2 linked regions of the Homo sapiens genome follow. The protein of the gene in region 1 purifies or fractionates together with the protein of each later gene. This does not show direct contact. Each region holds a gene or a part of one and is shown on either strand. Other genes may lie near its edges.

Region 1 (4,789 bases):
CTGATCTTTACACATGCTGATATACTTCAAGGTCAATTCTAGATTCTTCTTTCTTCTAACTTTATCCTTTCTCCCTAGTATCTTATTTTTGCTTTTAGCTACAACTACCATATTTATCCCAATGACTCTAAAGTATTTATATTGAATATCACAAATTTAGAGCTTCAGATCATATTCTGTTTCTGAGATTTAGACTAATATCTTCAAGTGCCTGCCAGGCAAATCCATTTGAATATTAAAAGTACCTTAATTCATCAAGTACAAATTTAAACCCAAAGTCTTTTTTTCTCTCAGAAACAAGATATTCTTCCATCCATCCAGTCAGATAGGTCAGCAACTTAGATGTCTTTCTGTAACTATTATTTCCTAAATAATTCCCCCAGGCTCTTTCTTTCTCTCCATTTCCACTCCCAATACTCTAATGATTTCCTAATTTATATATGGTAACCACACTGTTCTTTCCTCGCATCCATTGATATCAGCGTAGCCAGAGATGTATTTTCTAGATGTGGATATGATAATTTTATGCCCCTCTTTGACAAACAACCATCAAAGCCTGTAATGAGTTTCTTATCCCTTTAGCATAAAATAGGAAGTTCCTATGTGGTTTACAAGGCTCCTCCTGTTCTGGGATATGCCTTCTACTCCAGGCTCATCATGAACTACTCTGTTTTTAATTTTCCTTTATATATGATTAATATATCTCTAAATTATCTTTCCTATGTGTAACTGGACACTTGCCCTTTCCAGAGAGAAAACAGGTAAAGCAAAAATGATTTTATGTCATTATTTTATTGATGATGTGTTTTATAGAATCACAAAATTTAGAAACATAAGAAGGATTTAGGTATCACCTAAATTCAAAGAAATGTGTGTTTCTAGGTTGCTAAATTTGAAGAGAAAGTATGATTTGGTTTGGTTCATTTAAAACAGGTCAGAAACAGAATTATATTTCAAATTTAGAAGACACGGTATTAAATGATTCATCTTATCTTGGACATTTTTCCTCAAGGGAAATTTTTCTGGAAGGAAAAGTACATTTATATGTGGGCTTATTAAGAGAAAGAGAGAAAGGCATGCTATTTTAATCATTAAATTCTTGATGATGACTATCATCATCAAGATGAGATAGAAAAGAAATATGAGCCAAGAGAATCTGTTGTTGCCAGCAATCAGTTTACCAGAACACCTCTAGGTGAACATTTTCTAAATGGAGTGACAGACTAATTGCATCTATGGGGATGAGAATCTGCCATAGAAGAGGATGCTGTTGGTCTTATTTTGCCTTATGAAGAATAGGAAAGGGTGATTACAACAGAACTCTTCATTAGTTGAAGGAGATGATAATTCGACTACTACTACAGCGGTGGCAGCTGCAGCTTCCACTCCCTCCTCAGTGACCTCCACAAAGGCCTTGTGTAGGACTTTAGATACTGAGAGACCGTGGCTCCAGGTCATGCCTGAGAGGTCTGCATCCCCATTGAAGATATTCACCATTCCCATGGTTCTCAACGTGTCCTTGAGGTCATAGCTCTCTTCCATTTTGAACCGAGGTAAGTGTAAATCGACACATGTCTCTCTCATATTCTGCAAACTTGTCCATTCCATCAATTTCTCAGCAGTGAGTTTCTCTTCAAGCTATACAAATGGAAAAAAGAAACTGATATGACTAACTGTCGATCTCTAATACACCTTAACAATGAATTGACTATGTGGAGATTCGTTATTTTGGCAATAAATGTGAAATACAGAAGGTTCACTTTAATAGACATTATTATTCTAATAGGTAAAATATGAGTCCTGAATATATAAATACATTGGGTTATATGTGTATATGTATATACATGTATGTAAAAACAGAATCATGTTTTTACGTATATGTATATGTGTACATATGTATGTATACAACTGTATGATACACATGTAAAATATGATTACATTATTTTGTACACAATGAACTGTATGTATCACTATTTCTTGTGCCAACAGCCTACTACATGTGTCAATTTTTAATAGGCTCATCATATTTTTCTGTATACATTATTTAGTACACATTGCAATTATTAAATTGTAATTCCCTAAATTCCTAAATTTGTATTCCCTTTTCTACTCGGCCTATTTGTAAACTTTCCTCACATTGGTATATATTTCTCCCAGTCAAGTTTAAATTGCTGCATAATAATATCATCAAATTGATATCCAATGCATGTAACTCTAATAAATTAATCATTAACTAAGCCATAGATGGAATTAAATCATAGATGGGAATTGAACAATGAGAACACTTGGACACAGGAAGGTAACATCACACTCTGAGGACTGTTGTGGGGTGGGGGGAGGGGGGAGGGATAGCATTAGGAGATATACCTAACGCTAAATGACGAGTTAATGGGTGCAGCACACCAGCATGGCACATGTATACATATGTAACTAACCTGCACATTGTGCACATGTACCCTAAAGCTTAAAGTATTATAATAATAATAATAAAAACAAACAAACAAACAAAAACTAAGCTTTCAGTTTGTGTCAGGCCCTATGCTCAAATATTTGTAATATGAAGGTGAGTCATCATTCCTCATTTAGAATTTTTCATCATTTTGAGGCAACTCGGTCATAAGCTTTTACCTTGTTTAAACTTGGTATCTTTGGAAAAATGTCCGGCAGTAGAAGGAAGAGTTGTAGATGCAAGTTCTTACCTTCTGCAGACCATCGATTTCATTTGGCAGCAGCACAATCATGCTTAGATCTTTGCCTTTGTATGGTATTTCCAGGACCTTGGCCTGTACATCCTCCAGCAAGGCAAAATTAAAGGAATTGTATTGCCTCATCATCTGTACAGATTTGTATGTATTCTGCAATAAATCAATGTGTCCAACAAATAACACGTGAAACACAAGACAAAAAAGATAATATTATTGAGATAGCAACACATCCTTCTTCTTCTAAGAAATAACCCAGGAATTCCATGAGTTAGAAACAATAGTTTTTCAGGTATTCCTAACTAAATAAAGTTATAAGAGTAAAACAACAAAATAACAGACATGAACAATTTTTATTTTTTACTTATCATGTTACATTCCATCAGAAATGTTTAACATTCCATGTATTAACATATTACACTATATAAATAAAATATAGACAATACCTTGTTTGGCCAAAATTTTTCCTCTTTAGTGTTTTCTTTTTTAAATTTATTCTCCCACTGCCCTTTGAAATAGATTGCGTTCACAAGAACCAGTGTCGTATCATTGCCAATAGTCCCATCAGGAAATAGGTTTTTAATTTTTTCTGCAAGGGAAAGAATAAAAGAGTCTTTTACACAAGCTACAAATGGCTTGTCTGGAAGATGCTTTGCAAATGTTCGTGACTGATCGTTAATTATTGACCCAAATCCCTGCTTGAGACTCACTGACTTTGATCTTTGAATTGTTAGACTCACTGACCAGTGGTTCACCAGATGCAGCTTTCTTCAAGGCTCCAGTCGTATAAAGTTACCCTTGATGGAGACATCACTTCTTGTGATAGAGAAGGAGTTCACGTTCTCTGTGTATGAATGTCTCCAATCATCTGATTTGGAATACTGATAAACTGATTTTGTCTACTCTTCCAACATGTGTCTTTCCTTTCTCCCTCCCTCCTCTTCCTACTTTTATTTTTTTTTAACTACGGGGTCCCCATTCAGAGGAAGGAGGCCCTGATTGCATTTTAGGATGAGTGACTTGAGCTCTGTAATATGAAACGCATGTCCTGTGCTGTCAGACACTACTTCCGGGGGTATCTTCCTATTCACTCTCATGTTGAGTTGCTGTAAGTTTGGCCTGTAATGAGAGGTGGGAGGTAAGAAAGATGTCTGTAGAATGGAGACTTTGTCAAGCTCTTTGCCCTTGATGGGGAAGAGAGCTGTGATAATCCCTGCAGAACACATTGGCTACAGATGTGATCCAGGCAGCTCCAGCTCAGAGACAAAAGGGTGATTTACCAGAGAGCTGCTTGTTTCCCAATTAGTAAAGGAGACGAGAGACGCTTTCTAATGTTTTCTATTAAATATTCATCATAAAAATTTGAGTCTGATTTAAAGTAAAGGATATGATCTCAAAATAGGCCTGAGCGGAGACAGGGGATCCACAAAGCTATTGTCATGCAGGGCCATAAGCAAATAATTCTCCAGATGTGTTTCCATCTAATTGGCTTCCTGTGATTTCCTCCTTGGCTCCCCTAGGCTCTCTTCATATTCATTTGGACAAATCCTTCATCTGGAGTGCCCTCTTCAGCCCTCCCTGCAAACCCATCTCAATCCCCACACCTGTTCCCCCATGCAGTGTCAAGCACAAGGCTCACTGGCATAGGTTTCTCAAAGGTGTTTCTATAATGGGTGGCTCTCCTACCATTCGTTTGACTTTCCACCCAGGAGTTAATCTTCTTTCGACTTTCTTCTGGAGCATTTGCAAAATCAGTAGATTCCACACTGGTCTGGTAAAATTTCTTGATGGCATCTAAATATTCCTTTGAGATATGAAGGAAGAAGTAGGAATTAGGAGTAATTTATGTAACTATATATTACCAAACTTACTTATTTGTAACAACAGTAAGCTGAATCCAGACCCTGAATAGATGCAGTATCTCCTGTCCATGGATATTTTTATACAGGTGTCATGTAGGCAATGCAAAAGGGGAATGTGGGCTGGCACAAGAAAGAGGTCACTGAAGGTCAATATCATCTTGGCAAAAGGCAGAAGCAGAAGAGGCTGTGGTTTGCAAACTGCAGAGCAGGCTTCCCTGAAGGAGA
Region 2 (8,251 bases), on another chromosome or scaffold:
ATTATATATGTATAGGTATATATATTTAAGAAAGCAGTGTGTAATCATCTATGTTGAAACGAATTTGTTAATCTTGTACAAGGCTGGCACATTCACCCAAAGGGATTCTCTGCCAATGTGAAAATTAACTCTGTAGCTCTGAGCCTCTCCTTCCCATGGATTCAGTGTATGAGAAAAATTCTTGGCCAATCACAAGTGCTATACAAACTAAAAAATACTATGATGCACTGGGCATGGTGGCTTACACCTGTAATCCTACCGCTTTGAGAGACTGAGGTGGGAGGATCCCTTGAAGTCAGCAGTTTGAGACCAGCCTGGGCAACATAGGGAGAGCCTGTCTCTACAAAAATATATATTTTTTTAAATTAGCCAGGCATGGAGGCTCGTACCTGTAGTCCCAGCTACTTGGGAGACTGAGGTGGAAGGATCACTTGAGCCCATGAAGTCGAGGCTGCAGTAAGCTGTGACTGCACCACTGCACTCCAGCCTGGGTGACACAGTGAGACCCTGTCTTATATAAACAAACAAACAAACAAATAAATAAATAAATAAGTAGCTATTATCATCATCCCAATCTTAGGAATCCAATATCAGCTTGATAGTCACTTTTCAGGTCAACAATATCGTCAAGAAAAGTGTTGACACTCAGCTAATAAAATGGCAGAATGTTACCCTAGGATGTTATTGTGTCTGCCTTCTATTATCCCAAGATACAGGAGAACATTCATTTTTAAACTTCTCAAATGTGGAAAACAAACCCATTTGCTAAGATGATTTCCAATTTGAAATAGTTTCCAGCATTATATGAGCCACTCCCTGTACACCAAAGAGACATTCCCTTTACTTAATTTTATATCCCACTCGTGAAACATTTTCATGTGTTGGACCTACCAACTCCAACTGGATACCACTGACAGGAAGTGAGAAGGGTATGAGCCCTGGGGTAGGCATGCAGGGTGGGGAGACTGGCTTTTAGCTCTGGCTCTGGTTTTTACTGGAGTGATAACCTCTAAATTCTTTTCTAGCAACAGTTCTACAAATAATACCCCTTTCTCCTTCCCCGTTTCTTTCTACAGACTATTTCTTCAGTCATCCAGAGGCCGATGTAGGAGTCATTTATGAGTCCCTCAGTCTTTTATTCCCCCTATTCAATCAGTCATCAAGTGCCTCAGTCTTTCCTGAGAACATCTCTCAGATCAGGTCTTTCTGTCATGACTCTGCTTCTCTGTTGACTTCCTGTGGCCTGACAGGCTGAAGCTAAATATGTGGAATAGAAGACTCCTCAAAACCTGCCCTTTACCTCAGCCTCTAGTTGTATCTTCTGCTGCTTTCTCCCCACTGTGACCTTCTGCCCCAACCACACATACTCTCTCTCTCTCTTTCTCTCTTCTGTTTATGTTCCGTATTAGTTTCCTATCACTACTGTAACAAATTACCAAAAACTAGTACTATATGCAATACAAATTTATTATCTTACAGTTGGATCAGTCAGAAGTCTGACAAGTCTCAATAAATTAAAATCAAGGTGTCAATAGGGCCGTATTTCTTCTGGAGGCTCTACAGGAGAATTCATTTCTTTTCCTTTTCCAGGTTCTAGAGGTCACCGCCTTTCCTTGGTTCATGGCTGCTTTCCTTCATCTTCAAAGCCAGAAACATTGGGCCAAGCCCTTCTGTCTCTCCCTCTTCTACTTTAAAAGACCCTTGTGGCCCAGCCTGGCCAACATGGTGAGACTACTAAAAATACAAAAATCAGCTGGGTGTGTGCACGCCTGTAATCCGTAGCTACTCAAGAGGCTGAGGCAGGAGAATTGCTTGAACCTGGGAGGCGGAGGTTGCAGTGAGCCAAGATCGTGCCACTGCACTCCAGACTGGGCAACAGAGTAAGACTCCGTCTCAAAAAAAAAAAAAAAAAAAAAGAAAGAAAATGAAAAAGGACCCTGTGATTACATTGAGCTCAGTTAGATAATCTTGCTATGTCAGCTGATTAGCATCCTTAATTGCATCTACAACCTTAATTCTTCTTTGCCTTGTAACCTGTTACCTTCACAGTTTCGGTTCAGGGGATTAGGAGGTAGACATCTTTAGGGGAGCATTATTTTGCCTCTCTCATCCTCTGCCTCCCAAATTGTCAGAGATGCTTTTTATTCCCTCTTTATTATTTTACAATTAATCGTAGTAACAATCAATTGAATATTACCACAATTATGAGAATGTTTCAATTAAGTAAGTTTGACTGTAAATTATATATCCAGAGGTCTGGATTTATATTTTTAGGAAAAAACTCCACAATACTGAATGGCTTTATCTAAATTTAGCTTGCATTTTAAATCATATTTTTAACCACTCTGGGGATCCTAATAAAACACAAAGCATTTTAACATCTTATTGGTTTAAATTAACTAAGTATACTAATGATAACACATACCTATCAATTATATTTCATAGTTAAATCTTGAGAGAAATAAGCTTCAAATAAGTATTTTGAAAGGTTAATGCTAGGGTCTAATGTTACAATATATCTAAAATATTTCTGTGTTAATCTTACAATTTTAGAAAATCTCTAGTATGTTTAAGCTTAAAATGTTCTGGTTGTTATCACTTTTTTAGGCTCACAGAAGGGAGGCAGGCACAGATGGAAAAACGTAAGTTACTTACCCTTTTGGTCTGAAAAACACTGCAAACAGTAATCATACTTTTAGAGCATCAAATACGGGGCTGGAGCCTGGGCTGTGATAGAAATAACTTCGTCTTTTCTAATAACATGACCTTAACAGAACAGACAATGGAGACAGAGGGAAAAGCAGCAGCCAGAAATTCTTGTAAAGGTTCCAGAAGGTGAACCATGCTTTTTGGTTTTTCACCTATGTCATGCTGATATTAAGCAGTCAGATTATATAGTATTTTTGTCCCTTCCTCAGGGAAGCCTTCTCTGGTTACCCCTTAGATCAGTAGAGGTCACAAAGATATACTATCATGGAATGGTATGGTTCTCCTTCACAGCACTTATAACTCCCATTACAGACTATTTTTGTAATTGTTTAATGTGCCCTCCACGTGATTACCATGCTTACCACTGCATCCTTAGCTTCTACCACAGTGATTGGCCCCTATTAGACAATTAAAATATTTGTTGAACTGAATTGAATAAAGCTTTGGGGGGCACAGAGCAGCTGCTATGGTTTTTGTTTGTTTTTGTTGTTGTCGTTTTTGAGAGGGAGTCTCCTTCTGTTGGCCAGGATGGAGTGCGGTGGCGCAATCTCTTGGCTCACTGCAACCTCCGCCTCCCGGGTTCAAGCGATTCTCCTGCCTCAGCCTCCTGAGTAGCTGGGACCACAGGCACACACAACCACGCTCGGCTAATTTTTGTATTTTTATTAGAGACATGGTTTCACCATGTTGGCCAGGCTGATCTCAAACTCCTGATCTCAAGTGATCCGCCCGCCTCGGCCTACCAAAGTGGTAGGATTACAGGCGTGAGCCACCGCGCCTGGCTGCTATGCTGTTTTGCTTCTTTGGTATCGTGTAGCACATTCAGTACAAGTGATGTCCTCCGCTCTCAATAAGTGCTTCCTAAAGAACTCACATTTCACCCATTCAGAACCTTGCATGGTGTAGTAGCTGAAGTTACTACTTCAAGGACTCCTTCTCTTTATCTTGGGTAGAGAGGAACAATGTGAACTCAGCAAAGGGATCATGAAAACAGATTTTCTCTTATGTTACTTGTAGAAAGCTTTTAGATTTATCATTGAAAATTGCGAATTTTGAACCATATCCATTTTGACTTAATTGTATTTTAAAACAGTGGTTCTCAAAAAAGTGTGGTTCCGGGACCAACATCATCAGCATCGTGGGAACTTGTTAGAAACACAAATCCTTGGGCCTCACCACTGAACTAATGACTTAGAACAGGGGTTGGACTGGGGAATTCTGTGTTTTAACAAGTCCTCCAGGTGATTCTGACGCATGCCAGTTTGAGAATCACTTTTTTAAACCAATGTTTAAGTCCAATCTAACCTACTTAACTATTAACAGTCTACCTGGCTATCTACCTGTGGTAGTGTAGTATGTAACAGCCCACAGCACACATGCTCAATTCCAAGCCTATCTGCTCTCCGCAATCAGTATATTCCTCCTGCAATTTATCATGGTATGAAAGGCCCAGTGATACACATATTTGGTCATTTTCAAATAGTGCCTGCCAGCATAGTGGCTCACACCAGTCATCCCAGCACTTTGGTAGGGTGAGGCGAGATGATCATTTGAGCTCAGGAGTTTGAGAACAGCCCGGACAACATGGCGAAACCCCATTTCTACAAAAAAAAAAAAAAAATTAGCCAGCGGTAGTGGCGTGCTACTTGGGAGGCTGAGGTGGGAGGATCCCCTGACCCCTGGAAAGTGGAGACTGCAGTGAGCCATGACTGCACCACTGCACTCCAGTCTGGGCGACAGAGACAGACCCTGTCTGAAAAAAAAGTGCCCTTCACAGAAGCTTCCTCAGGGTATTAGCATGAGCATGTGAAAGTACAGTATGTTTATCAAACACATAAAATAAGCAGTTATAAATAACGTCAGAATAACACAAGGAGGCCAATTATCAAAATGAAAGGCTAGTTTTGCATGCTGTGCTTTGCGGAGAGAAGGAAGAGGGAGTTTTCATGTTATTACACTTTTGATAGCAGAATCCTATATTTTGGTGCAGAGGTGGCAAAATAAGGCGGGGGGTGCTGGTGCGCAGAAGCTGACAAGGTTAGAATGTGCAGCGTTTTTACGACGGACTGGCTTTACTCATTTCCTGCCTCACTTCTCTCCTATCTGTATAGGTTTTTCTTTTCGTCCTCCTCTACCAGTACGCTCCCGCCTGCCGCGCTCCGCCCTTGTGCGGCGCACGATCGGAGTCAGTGATTAAGCCGGCTCCAAGACAAAGCGGAGGCCGAGCCCAGGAAGCAAGCGCGCTCTCCGCCCCGCCTGGAGGGAGGGCCCAACCACAGCACAGCCGCGCTCACTCCTCACCCGGACGTGACCTAGTTCTCACAGAGGCCCGGCCTCTTCCGCCACAACTCCGGCCCGCGGTCCCGCCCCGTTCCGTGAATGGTCGGCCGGCCTCAGGTCAAAAAAGCGTTTAGGTGTCTGCGACGGAGCCTCCGGAGAAAGGCAAGCACGTCGCAGCCAATGAGGTGATAGAAACGCAAAGCAGCGACCAATGACTAGCTGAGTTGGGCTGGGCCGGCCGACGAATCACGAGGCTTCGCACCCGGATATGGTTATGGGCTCGGAAATCTAGTTCGGGAAAAGTGTGAGGGGCTCTTCACGTGGGGAAGGAACAGCAGGCGCGGAGGAGGGGGCAAGCGTGTGTGAGATTCAGTGGTCCATGCGTGCGTTTGTCGTGTAAGGGTCATTCCTGGGGTTTGGAGTGGGGGAACAAATCAATGTGGCTGTTTTTCCGTGGAAAGAATTCCCACTGCAGTGTCCCGGAGCCTGCGTGTGGTGGGCAAGCTCCTCAAATGGTATCTCACAGGGAATAGGGGAGTCTTGAAAACGCAGCTTCGGCAGTAGGAACATGAACCTCTTACCTAAAAGTTCCAGGGAGTTTGGCTCCGTTGACTATTGGGAGAAGTTCTTCCAGCAGCGAGGAAAGAAAGCTTTCGAGTGGTATGGAACCTACCTGGAACTGTGCGGGGTGCTACATAAATATATCAAGCCCAGGGAAAAGGTGAGGAGCGCGGGTTGGTAGCCCTTCGTACGTGCTCCGGAAGGTGGGAACTGGTAACAGGAATCTTGCACTTGGTGGACAGTGACAGGCGGGAGGACCCTAGTTGGACGCATATTTCAGCATTTCCTGCATTGTTCCTGCTAAAAGACAAACTAGAATATTCTTTCAGGCCGGGCGCAGTGGCTCACACCTGTAATCCGAACACTTTGGGAGACCGAGGTGGGAGGATCGCTTGAGCCCTGGAGTTAAAGACCAGCCTGGGGAACATGAGACCTCGTCTCTACAAAAAATGAAAAAATTAGCCGGGCGTGGTGGCGCGCATCTGTATTTCCAGCTACTCGGGAGGCTTAGGCGGGAGGATCGCTTGAGCCCAGGAGGTCGAGGCTGCAGTGAGCCATGATCACGCCACTGCACTCCAGCCTGGGTGACAGAGTGAGACCCTGTCTAAAAAAAAAAACATTTCTTTAAAGGTTTTCAGATAATAGACCTCCCACCCCAGCTCATTCTTGGATTAATAACCCTACTTGAAGAGTGACTTCCCATCTTGAAAGTATGTTCTTCTGTCACTGTGCATTCCTGTGCAACCTGCAGCAGGTGTGACTTTGTGTATGAATTTGTTTTTCAAATAGTCGTTGAGTGCGCCCCAAGTTTCAGGCACTGCTCAGTCCTTAAACTATAAGAGCATTAAGACGTAAACCCTGCACATGTTCCAGAAGTGAAACGTGATAAGTACAACAATGGGTTTGGTATAGGTGAGATTGTACTGGAGGTAGGGAAGGAGGAAGGTAGAAAACTTAACATTTGTGGGGAAGCTTTATGTGCCAAGCCTTATGTTGGGTGCTGTGTATGTGCATGTGCAATCTTTGAATTCTCATCATAAATTCAGGTGAGTGGCCATGCATACATTTTACAGATGAGGAAACTGAGGCCCCGAGAGCCACTTTTTTTTTTTTTTTTGCCCAAGATCATGTCCAGGTGGTCATGTGGGGATTTAAACTCAGGCCTGTCTGGCTCCAGAGCATATGCACATCTCTTTGTACCATGCTTTTCCAAAGATGGCAATATCAGAATTTCTAAGTTTGAATGGGAGATTGCTCCCTGGAGAGGGAGACAACAATCTGAATTTTAAGTTCGGCTTCAGAAGATAGCCAAATATCATGAGATGGAATCCGTGATGGAAGTAAGATTTGAATCCTCACAAAGTGTACTTTATTGTCTAAAGGAGCCAAAGGCATGAGTAGAGTGAGGAAATAGGGTTATTCCTGGCCTAGGATTTCAACTGTAACTCTATATTTGGATTCTCTGACTTCCTATTAATTCCTGAGTAATAAGTGCATGATTTAGAGAAAAGAACAGTTATGATTAATTTGTTTCTGCAACACAAAGCCCATTCTCATATAACCTGTATTGTAGCTGAATGTGGTTTTCACTAGCAAGTATATGTGGTGTTTCAAGATAGAGTCTAGCATCAACTCTACAATGTCGCTCTTTCTCTGGCAGTAGCGTCTCCACCTTCTGAAAATGTGACTCAGCCAAGGTGAGACTTGATTCCTTGAAGTACCTGAAGTACAGTCCTTTGCTTTGATTACCTCCCTCTTGTCTGTGAATTTTTTCTCCAGGTGCTGGTGATTGGGTGTGGCAACTCAGAACTGAGTGAGCAACTGTATGATGTGGGCTATCGGGATATAGTGAACATCGACATCAGTGAGGTTGTCATCAAGCAAATGAAGGAATGTAATGCCACCCGACGGCCCCAGATGAGCTTCTTGAAGATGGACATGACGCAGATGGAGTTTCCTGATGCCTCGTTCCAGGTGGTGTTGGACAAGGGCACCCTGGATGCTGTCCTGACAGATGAGGAAGAGAAGACCTTACAACAGGTGGACAGGATGCTGGCTGAGGTTGGCCGTGTCCTGCAGGTGGGCGGTCGCTATCTCTGCATCTCCCTGGCTCAGGCTCACATCCTGAAGAAAGCAGTGGGCCACTTCTCCCGGGAGGGGTGGATGGTGAGGGTGCACCAAGTGGCCAACAGCCAGGACCAGGTGTTGGAAGCAGAGCCTCAGTTCTCCTTGCCTGTCTTTGCCTTCATCATGACCAAGTTCAGGCCAGTCCCTGGCTCTGCCCTTCAGATCTTTGAGCTGTGTGCTCAGGAGCAGCGCAAGCCTGTGCGGCTGGAGAGTGCCGAGCGGCTGGCCGAGGCGGTGCAGGAGCGACAGCAGTATGCCTGGCTGTGCAGCCAGCTGCGCCGCAAGGCCAGGCTGGGGAGTGTGTCTCTGGACTTGTGCGATGGGGACACGGGGGAGCCACGCTACACCCTCCACGTGGTGGACAGCCCCACTGTGAAACCATCGCGGGACAATCATTTTGCGATTTTCATCAGTGAGTTGGGATTGCTCCCTCTCTTCCCTGGAGGGGCTGGCTTACAGGGGCTGGGGCTTGGGCTGGGGCTGGGGCTGAGGCTGGGCTGGGGCTTTGGTGGGATTCTGGACTGTTTTTTGTCTTGCAGGGGTTTGTACTTCCAGAGGATTAGACTACCCAAGG

Evidence for each region.
Region 2: the proteins of SERPINB4 (region 1) and METTL13 purify together in Homo sapiens (affinity purification with mass spectrometry; 3 studies listed by BioGRID and IntAct, with this or other methods). This does not show direct contact.

What each region holds. Positions count from the first base shown.
Region 1 is NC_000018.10:63,636,486-63,641,274, forward strand, and holds the end of SERPINB4 (serpin B4), read right to left. Parts: intron 4,507-4,789; coding exon 4,389-4,506; intron 3,292-4,388; coding exon 3,149-3,291; intron 2,856-3,148; coding exon 2,700-2,855; intron 1,639-2,699; coding exon 1,234-1,638; 3' UTR 774-1,233; downstream 1-773. UniProt on the Homo sapiens protein: May act as a protease inhibitor to modulate the host immune response against tumor cells.
Region 2 is NC_000001.11:171,776,411-171,784,661, forward strand, and holds the start of METTL13 (eEF1A lysine and N-terminal methyltransferase), read left to right. Parts: upstream 1-5,249; 5' UTR 5,250-5,557; coding exon 5,558-5,710; intron 5,711-7,329; coding exon 7,330-8,089; intron 8,090-8,251. UniProt on the Homo sapiens protein: Dual methyltransferase that catalyzes methylation of elongation factor 1-alpha (EEF1A1 and EEF1A2) at two different positions, and is therefore involved in the regulation of mRNA translation.